Linked DNA regions of Homo sapiens. The protein of the gene in region 4 purifies or fractionates together with the protein of the main gene of each other region. This does not show direct contact. Each region holds a gene or a part of one and is shown on either strand. Other genes may lie near its edges.

Region 1 (3,500 bases), on a different chromosome or scaffold from region 4:
GCCTCAGTGTCCCGAGTAGCTGGGATTGCAGGCGTGCACCACCATGCCTGGCTAATTTTTGTATTTTTAGTAGAGATGGGGTTTCACCATGTTGGCCAGGCTGGTCTTGAACTCCTGACCTCAAGTGATCCACCTGCCTTGGCCTCCCAAAGTGCTGGGATTATAGGCGTGAGCCACTGCTCCCGGCCTGTTAACCCTTTTTTACTACAGAGAACTTGGAACCTGTTTCATCACTTTTCTGCTTCTTCCAGGTTCTTGATACATATTTGCCAGACTTCAAGATTTCAGAAAAGGGGTGAAAGAGAAGATTGCAACTTTGAGTCAGACCTGTAGGCCTGATAGACTGATTAAACCACAGGTAAGGCAGTGACCATAGGAATAAGGAACATTAATATATCAGCTTCATAAGTGTTTAAATGACTAATGTAATTTTATAAAGTAACACATATTTTGGAAGGAAATTTATTTATTATGAAAAGCAAAAAGAAAATAAAATCACCCACTATCCCACCTCTCAGATAAACCATGGTTAGCCTTTTGATAGATTTCTTTATAATTTTTTTCTATGTCTATATAGTCATTCCTTGATATCCATGGGGAATTGGTTCTAAGACCTTCCCAGGATATCAAAATTCTCATATGCGGCCGGTTACTGTGGCTTATGTCTGTAATCCCAGCACTTTGGGAGGCTGAGGCAGGCGGATCACCTGAGGTCAAGAGTTTGAAACCGGCTGGCCAACATGGCAAAACCCCATCTCTACTAAAAATACAAAAATTAGCTGGGTGTGGTGGTGCGCATCTGTAATCTCAGCTACTTGGGAGACTGAGGCAGGAGAATCCCTTGAACCCGGGAGGCAGAGGCTGCAAGTGAGCCAAGATCTCATCACTGCACTCCAGCCAGCAAGACTCTGTCTCAAAACAAACAAAACAAAATTCTCAGATGCTCAAGCCCTGGTATAAAATGATGTGTAGTATTTGCATATAGCTTATGTACATACTCCCACATACTTTAAATTATCTCTAGATTACTTATAATACTTAATACAATGTAAATGCTATGTAAATAGTTGTTATACTGTATTGTTTAGGGAATAATGACAAGAAAAAAAGTCTAGGCTGGGTACAGTGGCTCAGGCCTGTAATCCCACCACTTTGGGAGACTTAAATAGGAGGATTGCTTGAGGCCAGGAGTTCGCGACCAGCCTGGGCAACATAGTGGCACCGTGTCTCTACAAAAAAAATAAAACATAAAAAAATTTAACCGGGCGTGGTGGCACCTACTTGTAGTCCCAGCTACTTGGGGGGCCAAGGTGAAGGGTCACTTAAGCCAAGGAGTTTGAGGTTACGGTGAGCTGAGGGCACCACTGCACTCCAACCTGGGTGGCAGAAAGAGACCCTGTCTCAAAAAAAGTCTGTACATATGCAGTACAGATGCAGTTTTTTTTTTTTTTTTTGAGGCAGAGTTTCGCTCTTGTTGCCCAGGCTGGAGTGCAATGGTGCAATCTCAGCTTACCGTAACCTCCGCCTCCCAGGTTCAGGCGATTCTCCTGTCTCAGCCTCCCGAGTAGCTGGGACTACAGGCATGCCACACCTGGCTAATTTTGTATTTTTAACAGAGATGGGGTTTCTCCATGTTGGTCAGGCTGGTCTCGAACTCCTGACTTCAGGTGATCTGCCCGCCTCTGCCTCCCAAAGTGCTAGGATTACAGGCGTGAGCCACCGTGCCTGGCCTTGCAGTTTTTTTTCCCCCAAATATTTTTGATCTGCAGTTGATTGAATCCACAGATATGGAACTCATAGATACGGACAGCCAACTGTATTTCATTTTTAAAAAAATCATACACTAAAAACTTTTGTTAATTTTTTTAACTTTTTTTTTTTTTTTTTTTTGAGTCGGAGTCTCACTCTGTCGCCCGGGTTGGAGTGCAATGGCGCGATCTCTGGCTCAATGCAACCTCCGCCTCCCAGGTTCAAGCAATTCTCCTGCCTCAGCCTCCCGAGTAGCTGGGATTACAGGCACCCGCAACCACACCCGGCTATTTTTGTGTTTTTAGTAGAGACGGTTTCACCATATTGGCCAGGCTGGTCTCAAACTCCTGACCTCATGATCTGCCCACCTCGGCCTCCCAAAGTGCTGGGATTGAGGCTTGAGCCACCACGCCCGGCCTCTAATTTTTTTAACTTAATAATCAGGCTATGAATATTTTCCCGTGTCATTAATAAATTTTCTTCTCTTTTCTTTTTTGTTTTTTTTGAGACAGGGTCTTGCTCTGTCACCCAGGCTGGAGTGTGCACTTCAGTGGCGTGATCACAGCTCACTGCAGCCTCCATCTCCTGGGCTCAAGTGATCTTCCTGCCTTAGCCTCTCGAGTTGCTGAAACTACAGGTGCATGCCACTGTACCTGGCCAAATTTTTCTACAACATAATTTTAATGGCTATATGGTATTCCATTATTTGGTTCTTTATATTACTTTTACCAGTGAAATTGCTGGTCTAAAAGAATGCGTATTTTTGGCCGGGCGCGGTGGCTCACGCCTGTAATCCCAGCACTCTGAGGAGGCTGAGGCGGGCAGATCACCTGAGGTCAGGAGTTCAAGACCAGCCTGGCTAACATGGTGAAACCCTGTCTCTACTAAAAATACACAAATTAGCCAGGCATGATGACGGGTGCCTGTAATCCCACTTACTCGGGAGGCTGAGGTGGAAGAATCACTTGAACCTGGGAGGTGGAGGTTGCAGTGAGCCGAGATCGCGCCATTGCACTACTGCAGCCTAGGCAACAGCGAGACTCCATCTCAAAAAACAAACAAACAAAACATATTTTTAAAAACTTTTGACATGTAACACCAAATTGCCTTGTAGGAAGATTATGCTGATTTACCTAAAACAGTATATATTCACATAGGCATAAATGTATAACTTAAAATAGGTAATATATTTGCATGGTGCAAAAATCAAAAGAATATAAAAAGCTTCATGGTTTAAAATCTTCCTCCAGCCTTGTTACTTCTTCACTCTCACCATCCATAGGTAAACACTTTTTTTTTTTTTTTTTTGGAGACAGAGTCTCACTCTGTCAACCAGGCTGGAATACAGTGGCACAATCTCAGCTTACTGCAACCTCTGCCTCCCTGGTTCAAGTGATTCTCCTGCCTCAGCCTCCCGAGTAGCTAGGATTACAGGCACGCCACCACACCTGGCTAATTTTTGTATTTTTATTAGAGATGGGGTTTTGCCATATTGGCCAGGCTGGTCTTGAACTCCTGACCTCAGGTGATCCACCTGCCTTGGCCTCCCAGAGTGCTGGGATTACAGGCATGAGCCATCTAATAAACACTTTTATTAGGTTCTTGGGTTTGAGTGTTTGTGTGTTATTCCCCAAACCAGATACCTTTTGAAGGGAATAAATCTCTATAAAATGAAATGACTGCTATTTGACTAGGATTGTAATCTGCAGCCACACTGTCAACCATTACAAACTTTTTCAGCTTCATACTAT
Region 2 (4,184 bases), on a different chromosome or scaffold from region 4:
AAGACCAGCCTGGCCAACATGGTGAAATCCTGTCTCTACTAAAAATACAAAAATTAGCCAGGTGTGGTGGCAGGCGCCTGTAGTCCCAGCTACTTGGGAGTCTGAGGCATGAGAATCACTTGAACCTGGGAGGCAGAGGTTGCAGTGAGCTGAGATCACGCCACTGCACTCCAGCTTGGGAAACAGAGCAAGACTCCGTCTCAAAAAAAAAAAAGAAGACCTGCGGCAAATTACTTTTTCCTACATCCTAAGGTAATTGTGATAATTAAGTGAAGTAATATGTGTAGAGCCCTTAGAACTTTACAATATTTGTAAAACCCTTAGAAGTTATAAAAATTATTTAATATTTAAATAATTTAATGAATGTACTTAATTCATTTAGTATTATGTATAAATATAAAATTATTTTATATTTGTAAAGCCCTTAGAACCGTGCCTGGCACACAGTAAAGCTCTGTTTGCAAATAATATTTTGGCTCACCAGTAGACCACTAGTTCATACTGCTTGATGATAAGCTATTCCGCCTCATTCGTCCTTGACCCCCTAAACAGGTCTATGCCTTGGTTGCTGGGAAGGTGTGTTGGCTTTATTAACAGTAATAGTGATATGTCCTTTTACCAGGCAATTGCATGGACCAGTATTTATAGGGAAGTTTGAGCCCTGCCGCAGAGGGGTTAAGTGATGGGAAAATGCCTGCCATTTTCACATGCTGTTACAACCAGGCAGTAAAAGTCCTCAGAAGTTAAATTTTAAGTAATCAGACTGGCCACTTTCCTTCCTCTGGGAATGCAGTTGGGATGGAGGGCTCTGTCTCTAGTTGGAAAGAAGTCTGAAGTCCCCTCCTGTGTGGACACCAGACAACAGGTATCCCAGGGCCCTCTAGTTGACCAGCAATACTGTGGAATGAAGACACCCTCAAGTCACATTTGAAATCATTCCGGGTTCTTCCAGTTCAGCACCTTGACTGTTTTCCTCTTCACTGGGAAGGTGCTGGCAGCCTGACGGCCTTTTAGGCTTCTTTTAAGTTTGGGGCATCTGAAACCCGGCCAAGGTGCGGCGGGTAGTGTACTCATTCGAAGGAGAATACCCCCAATTCACTAGACGAGCCCCTAATTGGGGGTGCGGTGCCGGGCGCGCTCTTTCCTCCCCCTTTCCACCAGCACTGCCCTCAGTTCTGCTTCTAGCCACGCCCTTTCGCGTTCACGTCCAGCGCCCTGGCGGGATTGATTTGAGGACGACTGGACTGCCATTGCGCCTGCGCAGGGAGCCCAAGGCAAGAGCCGCTAGGCTGCCCTGCCCGAAGGGCTCAACTGTCAGTGAGCCTGCGCAGGAGGCCAATAGGCTGCCAATACTCCTTGGACTCCCCGCCAGGGCCCTGCTGTCAGTGCGCCTGCGCGCGGGTCCGGCGCCGAGGTTCTTGACTGCTGTGCCGGACGCCAGGTGTAGCCATGCAGCGAGCCGATTCCGAGCAGCCCTCCAAGCGTCCCCGTTGCGATGACAGCCCGAGAACCCCCTCAAACACCCCTTCCGCAGAGGCAGACTGGTCCCCGGGCCTGGAACTCCATCCCGACTACAAGACATGGGGTCCGGAGCAGGTGTGCTCCTTCCTCAGGCGCGGTGGCTTTGAAGAGCCGGTGCTGCTGAAGAACATCCGAGGTAGCGGCTCCGGAGGGGCTGAGGGGCGAAGGGCGGCGACCTGGGGCGCGGGCCAGGCGCCCTGAGGGAGGGGGCCCCACGAGAGGACCGAGGCCGAGGAGCGAGCCCTGCGGCGGGAGGCACCCGGGAGGGCGGACCTGCGCTGGGGGCGCCGAGGAAAGGAAGACCCGAGGCGGGGGAGGGAGCCCTGCGGCGGGGGTTCCCAGGAGGGCCTGCGGCATGGGGCTCCCGGGACTGACTCCCCGAGGCGGAGGAAGAAGACATGGGGTCGCCTGGGATAGGCGATTCGTAGGATGGGAGCAGGCTCCCGGGATTGAGGACCTGGGAGGGGCAGTCGTAGATTGGGATCTCACTCTCGTGGGTTTCTTCACTAACTTGCCACCCCGGCGCGGGACAAGCGAGACTCGGGTCCCTTTTTTTTAGTTAGAAGGAGATTTTTCCCCAGACCTTGGTGGGCGGCTTGCTGTCATCCAGGCTCGCGGGACCCCTCCGCGCTAACCGCAGCTCCTTGAACACTTGCCACATCAGAGGATGTTCTGGGGCTTTTAGGTTTCGGTTTCCTCCCTGAATTGAGGCTTTTCCTGAAGGGGAAGGAACTGGCTTGGTTAATCTCTGAATTCCCATCACCTTCCTTGGCATCCCAGCAGCGCCCGATAGGCGTGTGTTGACTGCACTTGCAGAACATGGTAAGGAACATGTTTTGCTCTTTAAAAGCAGGTTCCCCTCCAAAATCTGAACCTTGGGGTTGTTCAGTTGACCACTGAATCCCCAGCATGCCACAGTTTGGCCACATCCCCTGGAGAAGTGTTTAGGTTGAGTTTTAATCATATTTTACTGATTCGTATCCAAGCATCCATCCTTGTGAATTCTACTCAACTTTTTGTGGTGGGTGTGAGATTTGACTCCTGCCTTATATCCTCTAGGTGTCCAATAGGAAGGTGATTCTTTGGTGGTTGGGATTTGCAAATTTAGTAAATTTTTGCATTTGTTAGGTGGGGCCCTGTTTGGCTAGGTTGGAAACTGGGGTAGGAGGAACATTAGTGGTTCAGGACCCAAAGATAGCTTGAATGGGTATGGGAAATTGCATTTCTCCTTTTTTTTTTTTCTTCCCCCTTTTGCCCTTTCGTTTCCCTCCACTGCTGGGATGGATTATTACTTTATTTTCTTTGACTAGCAACAAGTGGAGTGAAGTAGTTCCATATTTTCTGTCTCAAAATGTGGTTGGCTCTCTGTTTCAGTGGTTTGTAGATTAACTCGTTACCCTCCAGAATGATGTGTGTTCCTTAAACCTACAACCTATTGCTATCAAAGACACTATGTGCTTTCATTTGGTAAAAACTGACCAACTGTTCCCAATTGCTCATGTCTTAGCTTCTGCTTTGTCTTGACCAAACTTTATTCGGACTTCTCTCTTCCCTTATGGGCCCCTCAACTCTTGCTTACCCCCAGATCTGACCAGGCAGGCACTAAAGCAGTGGAATATGCCTCCCTCTGGTCAGTTTCTTTTGAGAACCGGCTGACCACAGTAGGATGCTGTCCTGTTGGGCTACACTGCTCATTTTCCCTTGCTCGTCCAGGTTCCTATCCAAAGATTCTGCTTATTTCTGCTTGCCCGTCCTTTATCATATAAAAGAAGACCCTTTTTCTGTTGGATTCTTTTTTTTTTTTTTTTTTTTTTTTGAGACAGAGTCTCGCTCTGTCGCCAGGCTGGAGTGCAGTGGCGCCATCTCGGCCCAGTGCAACCTCTAACTGCCTGGTTCAAGCTATTCTCCTGCCTCAGCCTCCCGAGTAGCTGGGATTACAGGCATGTGCCACCACGCCCAGCTAATTTTTTTGTATTTTTAGTAGAGATGGGGTTTCACCATGTTGGCCAGGATGGTCTCCATCTCCTGAACTCGTGATCCGCCTGCCTCAGCCTCCCAAAGTGCTGGGATTACAGGCGTGAGCCACCGCGCCCGGCCTCATTTTTTTTTTTTTTTTAATTAGAGACAGGGTTTTGCCATGTTGGCCAGGCTGGTCTCAAACTCTTGGCTTCGAGTGACCATCCACCCACCTCGGCCTCCTAAAGTGCTGGGATTACAAGTGTGAGCCACCATGCCCAACCTCTGTTTGGTTCTTGGGCCTCTGTTTGATTATTTTTTAAAATTTATTTTATTATTTTATTTTTTTTCTGAGATGGAGTCTCGCTCTGTCACGCAGGCTGAAGTGCACCGGCACAATCTCAGCTCACTGCAACCTCTGCCTCTCGGGTTCAAGTGGTTCTCCTGCCTCAGCCTCCCTAGTTGCTGGGATTACAGGTGCACGCCACCACGCCTGGCTAATTTTGTGTTTTTAGTAAAGACAGGGTTTCACCATGTTGGCCAGGCTGGTCTCCAACTCCTGTCCTCAGGTGATGCATCCGCCTCTGCCTCCCAAAGTGCTGGGATTACAGGCGTGAGCCACCGCGCCCGGCCGGCCTATGTGTTTGATTCCTGAGCCTCTTGCAGATATCTGATATTGGAGCTTTCTCCCTGTAGAAATAGTCTTT
Region 3 (3,500 bases), on a different chromosome or scaffold from region 4:
GCTCCTGTTGCTGTCTCTGTCAGCTGTCTGTGGCTGCATAAAAAGTCACACCAGCACATGCTGTCTTAGGACAGTGGTGACATGTGCCTTCTTCCAGTGCAGTGGGCAGATGGGACCATTATTCTGTTGGCCTCTCCTGGCCTGGTCAGCTGGTGCACCATGCCCCATGCGTGTCAGAGGCGTTGTCTGGGACACTGGCCTCTTTCCACATCGACTTTCACCCTGGGCTCCCCCACGTGAGGGCAGTGGCATCCCAGAACAGCAGGAGCAGGAGCGTCAAGGCCTCTGAAGGCCCAGCCTCAGAACGACCAACGTCCTCCACATCCTGTGGGCCAGAGCCAGCCCCAGGCAGCCCTGATTCAAGGGGACGAATAGCCCCCGCCTCCGAGTGACAGAAGTAGCAAAACCGTGGCCTTTAACCACACAGTCTGCCCGCCACAGGCGCATCTCTGGTCCTCACATGTGCAGAATGCACTCACCCACCTCAGGCCCCCAGCCCAGGCCCCCACCTGAGGTCCAAGGCCTCGTCCAGATCGCGTTGAGTTGTGGCCAGTCCCCAGGAGTGGGTCATCAGGGGCAGCTCCAGGGTCCTCGTGCCTGCCCCACACACCCCCACAGGGGCGAGGCTGAGGCAGTGACCACAGCAGACGCACCTTTCAAACGTGCAGGGAAAGGTGGCTGACGGGAGGCGTGAGCAGCCATCCCAGCTTCTGCTCGTCGTGGGAAGCAGAAGGGAGTCGCCCGGCAAGGCCAAGGCTCAGAGGTCTTCCTCTGTCACTTCCACCACACGCAGTGCTGGGAAAGCAGCCACCGACGTGAGGAGACCAAGGCTGCCTGGGAGGAAGGACCAGCAGAACCGCGTGGCTGCGGGGACAAGGGCAGATTTGGGGGACAGCCATGGCACCACAGCCCCTCCGTGGAGTGGCCGGGAGAGCAGGGCCTCTGGACAGGGCTGGGCCACCACACAGCCAGTCCATTTAGGATAACAGAGTCTTTCTCGGTGCCAGACCTCAGCAGCCTCTGCAAATGGTCCCCCTGACATATTTTACAGGGGCAGATTCTCTGTCGTTAAGAAATGTGATCAGAAAGGAACCAAGCGAGCAGTGGCCACTAAGTTTGTGAACAAGAAGTTGATGAAGCGCGACCAGGTCACCCATGAGCTTGGCATCCTGCAGAGCCTCCAGCACCCCCTGCTTGTCGGCCTCCTCGACACCTTTGAGACCCCCACCAGCTACATCCTGGTCTTAGAAATGTGCGTACACACCTGGCCTTCCCTCTGCCCAGCCCTCTGCCTCCACCTCAGGGGGTTTTGTTGTTCCTGTTTGTTCTCTAAGAAGGATAGAAATTGGGTTTGTAGAATTTACAGAACTAAAAAACATCTTCACTGTCAGAGCCCGCAGTTTTCAAGCCTTCCAGTAATGGCAGAAAGCAGTGTGGTCTTCCACAGGGCGGTTGCCTGATGAAGGGCAGTCACTGCTGGGATGGAACACCTGATATGCTCAGCCAACCCGGAGATGCACCCCCCCCACCCCTTTTCTGAAGGTCCCATGAGGCCAGGCTGTCTCTGGTGCTGAACCCAAGCCCCCATTAGTGGTTGGAGGCTGACCTGATACCCCAAGCCTGTGCAGGGCCAGCTCACCCCGGATCAGCGGGGTGCCCCTCAGGCCTCCTGCCAAGTGAAGGCCAGTTGGATGGGAGGGTAAGACGCACCTCCCCGCAGAATGTCCTCCGAAGAGGGGGCGCGGGCACACCAACCAGAGCTGCCCCTCTGGTCCCCGTTGTACTTACTGGGCTCCTGTGTAAGATCAGAAAATAATTTAGTCACGTCAAGAAAAGAGTTTGAAACCTGTGTCCCACAGGAGCGGTTCTCATCTAGGGGTGGGTTCTCGTGGAAATGTCAGGAGAGCTCAGGCTGGGGGTGAGTCCGGCAGGGAGCGGCCGGAGGCCAGGGATGCCACCCAACCTCCTGCAAGGCAGGGACAACCCCCATGGATTCATCCACCCCAAACATCTGTGCATTTAGCTTTGAAAAATGTCGATTCCTCCTTTTTAGGGGGAGTCATTTTATACATTTACTTGCATTTACAGCTGCTTTTCCATGGGGAAGGGTAAAACCTTTTGTCACCATTTGGGAAGTTTGCATAGCTTCTTCAGTGGGAAGGATAGGATTAGCAGGGCGCCCCCATGGGGTCATGTAGGGGCAGACTCAAGCTCGGGGCCCCTCGCCGGCAGGAACTCCCTCCAGGCCCTGTACCTGATGTTGTAGTTATTGTCATTTTTTTCTTAAAGAAACTATAAATGCCTCCCCATACCCTTCCTAGGGCAAGGCTGCCACAGCGTCCCACATGGCCCCACATGCAGCCTTACCAGCTTCCTCGGGCCGCCCATGTGCCATGGGTGACAGTGGGTGTCTCAGGAAGGCCTCCCACCCATGGCTGCACAGCTAGAACCTCCCCCAGCACATGGGGACGTGCTTCCAGCCCGTCTTTCAAGAATAGAAAACACATCTCATGGCAGAAGGGCAGACGGTGGGGCGCAGTGAGGCTGAGCAGTGTGTATGGAGAGGAGGTCCACTGGCCTCGCCTGGCCTCAGTCCCCGCCCTCCCTCTCATCGGCTCATTTCTCACCCTGGTGTCCTTAAAAGTCACACTGGCTTTGGAGGGTTGTCGTGGGGCCGAGATGGGGCGATGTGTGTGGAAGAGCCGAGCCGACATCCAAGCCGAGGCCTGGCCTGGGAGCCTCAGGACCCGGGAGGTCTCCTTTCTGGCTCCAGACGCTGGTGACCAATGGCCACTGCTCACCTTCCCTGGGGAGTTTTAACAAAACTGTGGCTTGAGTGCTTGTCACAAATCTCCTAAAGGCCTTCGTTTCTGGACTGACATTTCAGTGCTTTCAGCTGTCATTTCTGGGAAACAAAATGGTTTGGCCTCACCATCCTGTTAATAGGATCCGTTTTCATGACAGATTACTCCTGTTCTCACCGGCGACTCCCCATTGCTAGACAGGCAGCTGATCTTCCTACAGATTTCTGTTTTGCAAAGAGAGCAGCATAGGCCGGTGTTGAGAGAGGTGGGGGCCAGACCACCTCAGTCCAATCCTGGCTTCTCCACTCTGGAGCTGTGGGACCTTGGGAACGTTTCATGCTTTCTCTGTCCTGAGTTTCCTCGTGTATCAAATGGGTACACTAAGGCCCACTTCACAGAGAGTCATAAGGATTAAATGAGTTGTTAGAAGGCATTGAGCCCCTGGCACTTGGCAGTGCTGGGTAAGTGTTTTTTTAGTATGAACAGTAGTTTCAGAGGAGGAAGTCTTCTGAGTCCAACACTGAGCACTCAGTGTGTCACCTCCTGCCCAGCCTGTGGTTACATGATCTCGGTGAGTCTTCCCGTGGCCCATTCTACAGGTGAGGAAACTACAGCTCCGAGAAGCATGAGCTACTTGCCTTCCTTCAGCAGATACCGCAGGATGCCTGCTGCACCTGGCACTGCCGGCAGCCGGGC
Region 4 (3,932 bases):
TGGTCGGCTCCCGTCCGAGCTGCTCCACCTGCGCCGCTGGCCTTTCCGCCCGCTACGCACCTGGGCCCCGAGAGGCCAGAGGGGAGTGTCCCCAGTGGCCCGGGTCCCCGAAGGTGGCCCAGCTCGGGCGCTCGCGCAGCCGGGTACTCACCTTGGGGGCGCGGCGGCAGGAGAGCGCGGGCGGAGAGGTGCGGGCGCCCTGGGACGACCAGCCGAGGACGCCTGGTGTTTGGACGGCTGCCCCCGCGCTGTCCCCCCGTGCGAGGCGTGTTGGCCTCCGTGGCCTCGCGAGGGACCGAGGGCGGCGGGTCCGAGTGCCGCCCGCCGGCCTGGGCAGTGGCGGAGCGCGGAGCTGGCGGCGCCTCCGCTGTTGTTTTTGAGCCGCGAAGCCCGAAGCAGCAGCCGTTGGGTGGGGGCGAAGGGGAGGAGGCGGGGGCCGGGAGGCGCGAGGGGGGCGGTGGGGCCCGGAGGGGGCTTCGGAGGAGCCGGGTTCTGGCGCGCGAGCCCCGACGCCCCCTCCAGCGATCGCAGGGCGGGGACGGGGGCCGAGGGGAGAATGCAGGAGAAAAGCGGGCCGGGGCGACGGGGAACGCAAAGCTTTTAAATTAGTAATCAAACGCAGTAAAACGGAGCAAAACCAGCCCGGACTCGCGTCCGAACTATCGGCGCGTGTGCCCCGAGATCCAAGGAAGTCGTGTGGAAAACCGCAGCCGCCGCCCCATCTTCGGCCCCGGCTGGGGCGGGAGCAGCAGCGCGACGCGCCGCGACGCAGGGGCAGGGTGGGGGGATAGTCACCTCGCCTCCGGGGCCACCTGGGTCCTTTTAAAGTGTCCGGGGTGCGGGCCCCGGGCGGGAGCGCCGAACACGGAATGTTTTCTTAAAGGGCCAGTTCCGAGCTGCGCTGAAAAGGGGGGGGGGGAGAGGGGGGAGAGATAAGTGAGACGAAGACCGAGAAGGCCGAGGAGAGCCCCCCAATCCCGCGCCGAGGCGGCGGCGGCGGCGGCGGCGGCGCGACGATGAGGATGATGAATACATTGCAAAGTTTTTTTGGCCCCGGCGAGGGGTGTCAGATTGAGTGCTCTGTGCGCATGTGCGAAGGTGTCCAAACTGACAATGCTGGGGAGATGAAGATAGTGTGTGGCTGCTTCTGGACTCAAGGAGGAGGAGAGAGATTCCGCGAGCCGACACCATGCGATCCAAGGCGAGGGCGAGGAAGCTAGCCAAAAGTAAGTCTCCCGCGCTCGGCCGCGCCGCGCCGCCGGGGCCCGGGCCGCCGGGCCGGGGCGCCCGGGCCAGGGGTGCGCGTCGGGGCGCGGCCGGCGCGCCTGCGGCTCCGGGCCCCCGGCTCGGCCGCGCGGCCCGGGGGGCTGCTCCGCCTCCCGCGCTCCGGGGCGACCGGGCTCGGCGCGGAGGCTCGGGGCGCCCGGGCCGCGCGCTCCCCGAAGGCGCCGGCCCCCTCCCCGCGGAACCCCCTCCCCCCCCACCAGTGTCAGGCGCTCGGGCCCGGGAACCCGAGGCGCGCGGTGGGGGCCGGGGAGGGGGGCGGAGGGGGAGGGCCGGGGGTGGAGGGGAGCGAAAAGTGAAAGTTAGCGAAAAGTTGACGAAAGGGGAGAGCAACTTTTTCCTCCCCGCTCGCTCTCTCCCTCTCTCTCTCCGAGTGGCTCTCAGTCCTGGTCAAATCATATTCCGGGCTTTTGAAATAGTGGGCGCTAGAGCACCGCCTTTGGCGTCCGCCAGCCGGGCGCAGAGGAGGGAGACCCCGAGCCGGGGAGGGGCGGAGGAGGGGGCGCGGGCCGGCGCCCACCCGGCTCCGCGGGCGCAGGGGCAGGGGTGGCGACGGCGGGACAGCCGCAGCCACTTGGGGAGCAAAATGGAGACTTTTGCCCGGGCTGGGAACTGTGGTCGTGAAGTTTATCCCCGGCTGTGCCCCGCGTGGTGGAGGGCGCTCCTCTGGGACGCCGGCAGCCTGCGCGGGCCGCCGGGGCGACAGTGCCTCCGACAGGAGGGACCCACCCGGCCACCTCCCGACCCGCCGCTGCCGCCCTCGGGCCCGCGTGGACCCCTCTGTACCCGCTTGCCTGGCACAGCCGGGCCCGGCGGGGACAGAGCTGCCCCGGCCAGGCTGCCCGGTCCTCGGTCTTACTTTCTCTTTCGCTCCGTCTCGGCCGAGCCCCGGGCTCCGCGCGCCCCGCCTGCCGCCAGCCGGTCCTTGCCGCGGGCCGGGTGCTCCAGCCACCCGCGCCCTCGCCCGCCACAGCGCCTCCGAGCAGCCCGCGCGCACCCCGCAGCCCCGGTCGCCGGCGCCATCCGCGGTGAGGCGGGCGGGCAGGTGAGGACAGGCGGAGCCGCGGCCCGGCCAGCGCGGCTCCCGCAGCCCCGCCGAAGCCCCGGCTGCAGCGAAGCGGCCAGCGCCGCGCGGAGCGGAATCGGCGCCGCCTGCTCCCGCCGCCCCCTCCTCTGCAGGCCGCCCGCCCGCCCACCCGCAGAAGAGGCGCCCGGGCCGCTCCCCTCGAGGTCCCCGCCCGACCCACGCCGTTCCGTCCGCGCCTCCGGGGCCGGGTCCCTCCAGGCCGGCCTCGCAGCTCCCGGGGCCGAGCCCCCAAACGTGAGCCGGGTGCGCGCGGGACTCGCGGCGGTTTTCCGAAGCTCCGCTCCCTCGGCTCGGGGCCCGCCCGGCTCGTCCCAACAGCTGCCCCGCGGCCGTAGGCCCCGCGCTCTGTGCACCAGGGAAAAGCAGCTCCCGAGTTTGTGCCGGACGCTCCTGCGCCCCGCCATCGGCCGTTCCCGGCCCCTGGGTGAGGCGCCCCCTTCCCGCCGCGCTCCGCTGCCGGGTGCCCTCGGCCTCGGCCTCCCGTGACCTCTGACCCCTCTTGGTGCGAACAAGACCGGGCGTTTCGCCGCCGACGCGAAGGGGCTGTCTGTGCGCGGCGTTGCGGGCCCTCCGCGCGTGGGGTGTGCGTGTGCGTGTTCGGGTTCGGTTCTGTGTGTGCACCGCGGGCCTGCTCAGAGTCGGGACCACCGGGCTGCGTGTGGGCCGCCAGGTCAGGCCCTCGCCCAGGATGGGCCCTAAGCTGGAACGAGAAAGGGGAAACCGGCCGCGCTGACGCCGGGGCCTTCGCTGCAAGCGAGAGGCGGACTCGGCGCACCCGCGCGGCCCTGGAAACTTCCGAGAGGCCCCAGCTCTCCGCCGGCTCCACCTCTGCCAGGTGGGGAAGGTGGCCCGGGACCGGGTCCGCTCAGGACCAGAAGTGGTGCCTGGCAGCCATCTGGCCAGGAGGCCGGAGAGCCGGGCCCAGCGGGAGCGCCGAGCGCTGGCTTCCTTTTCCCGAGAGTCTTTAGTGAGGAAAAACCCCATGAGAGGTGACTGCCAGGCCTCGGCCCTCTGTCCACACTTGGCCGAGCGCTGGGAACCCCTCCTTCCAGGCTCCACAGCTGGGACCGCTTGTCCCAGGCCCCCCAAGGTGGCTGAGGCAGGTTCAGGATCACACTGCCTGCCCTGAGCAAGAAGGCAGGATCCGCTGAAGAATTTCATTTCATCAGGCGATATTTTAAGCAGATGTGAACTTCCCCGGGGACCATAGTCCATTACCCGAGTCAGAGGCGGTAGGGCCAGCACTCCAGCCAGCAGGTCCTCCCCTCCCCACAATGCTGACCAGGTCAGGGGACTGTGGGGTTGGGCAGGGGCAAGGTCATGGTTACCAGGTTGGTATTCAGGCTGGGCACAGAACAGCAACCAGGCCAGTGGAGGTGACCCCATGACCCAGCATTTCGGGGGCCACCGCCGAGTGTGCATCTGGAGGTGTAATTTCGTTTGTGTTTCCCTGGAGACCCCACTCCAAGCCTCAGTTCAGGTGGGTTAGTCCTCTGGATTGGGTCTTGTGAAGGGCCAAATGGTGGCGGCTCCGGGGGTGACCCGGGCTTCCAGCTGAGCT

The links. The genes of interacting proteins can lie anywhere in the genome.
Region 1: the proteins of PRDM16 (region 4) and TPX2 purify together in Homo sapiens (affinity purification with mass spectrometry, with the first as the bait; one large-scale study listed by BioGRID). This does not show direct contact.
Region 2: the proteins of PRDM16 (region 4) and SAMHD1 purify together in Homo sapiens (affinity purification with mass spectrometry, with the first as the bait; one large-scale study listed by BioGRID). This does not show direct contact.
Region 3: the proteins of PRDM16 (region 4) and TRIO purify together in Homo sapiens (affinity purification with mass spectrometry, with the first as the bait; one large-scale study listed by BioGRID). This does not show direct contact.

The regions. Positions count from the first base shown.
Region 1 is NC_000020.11:31,742,290-31,745,789, forward strand, and holds part of TPX2 (targeting protein for Xklp2), read left to right. Parts: intron 1-251; 5' UTR 252-358; intron 359-3,500. UniProt on the Homo sapiens protein: Spindle assembly factor required for normal assembly of mitotic spindles. Required for normal assembly of microtubules during apoptosis. Required for chromatin and/or kinetochore dependent microtubule nucleation.
Region 2 is NC_000020.11:36,948,909-36,953,092, reverse strand, and holds the start of SAMHD1 (deoxynucleoside triphosphate triphosphohydrolase SAMHD1), read left to right. Parts: upstream 1-1,384; 5' UTR 1,385-1,449; coding exon 1,450-1,657; intron 1,658-4,184.
Region 3 is NC_000005.10:14,503,342-14,506,841, forward strand, and holds part of TRIO (triple functional domain protein), read left to right. Parts: intron 1-1,051; coding exon 1,052-1,252; intron 1,253-3,500. UniProt on the Homo sapiens protein: Guanine nucleotide exchange factor (GEF) for RHOA and RAC1 GTPases. Involved in coordinating actin remodeling, which is necessary for cell migration and growth. Plays a key role in the regulation of neurite outgrowth and lamellipodia formation.
Region 4 is NC_000001.11:3,068,071-3,072,002, forward strand, and holds the start of PRDM16 (histone-lysine N-methyltransferase PRDM16), read left to right. Parts: upstream 1-1,132; 5' UTR 1,133-1,189; coding exon 1,190-1,226; intron 1,227-2,143; coding exon of another isoform or gene 2,144-3,793; exon of another isoform or gene 3,794-3,932. Other genes in the region: translation initiation factor IF-2, read right to left, coding at 878-901, 2,144-3,793. UniProt on the Homo sapiens protein: Binds DNA and functions as a transcriptional regulator. Displays histone methyltransferase activity and monomethylates 'Lys-9' of histone H3 (H3K9me1) in vitro.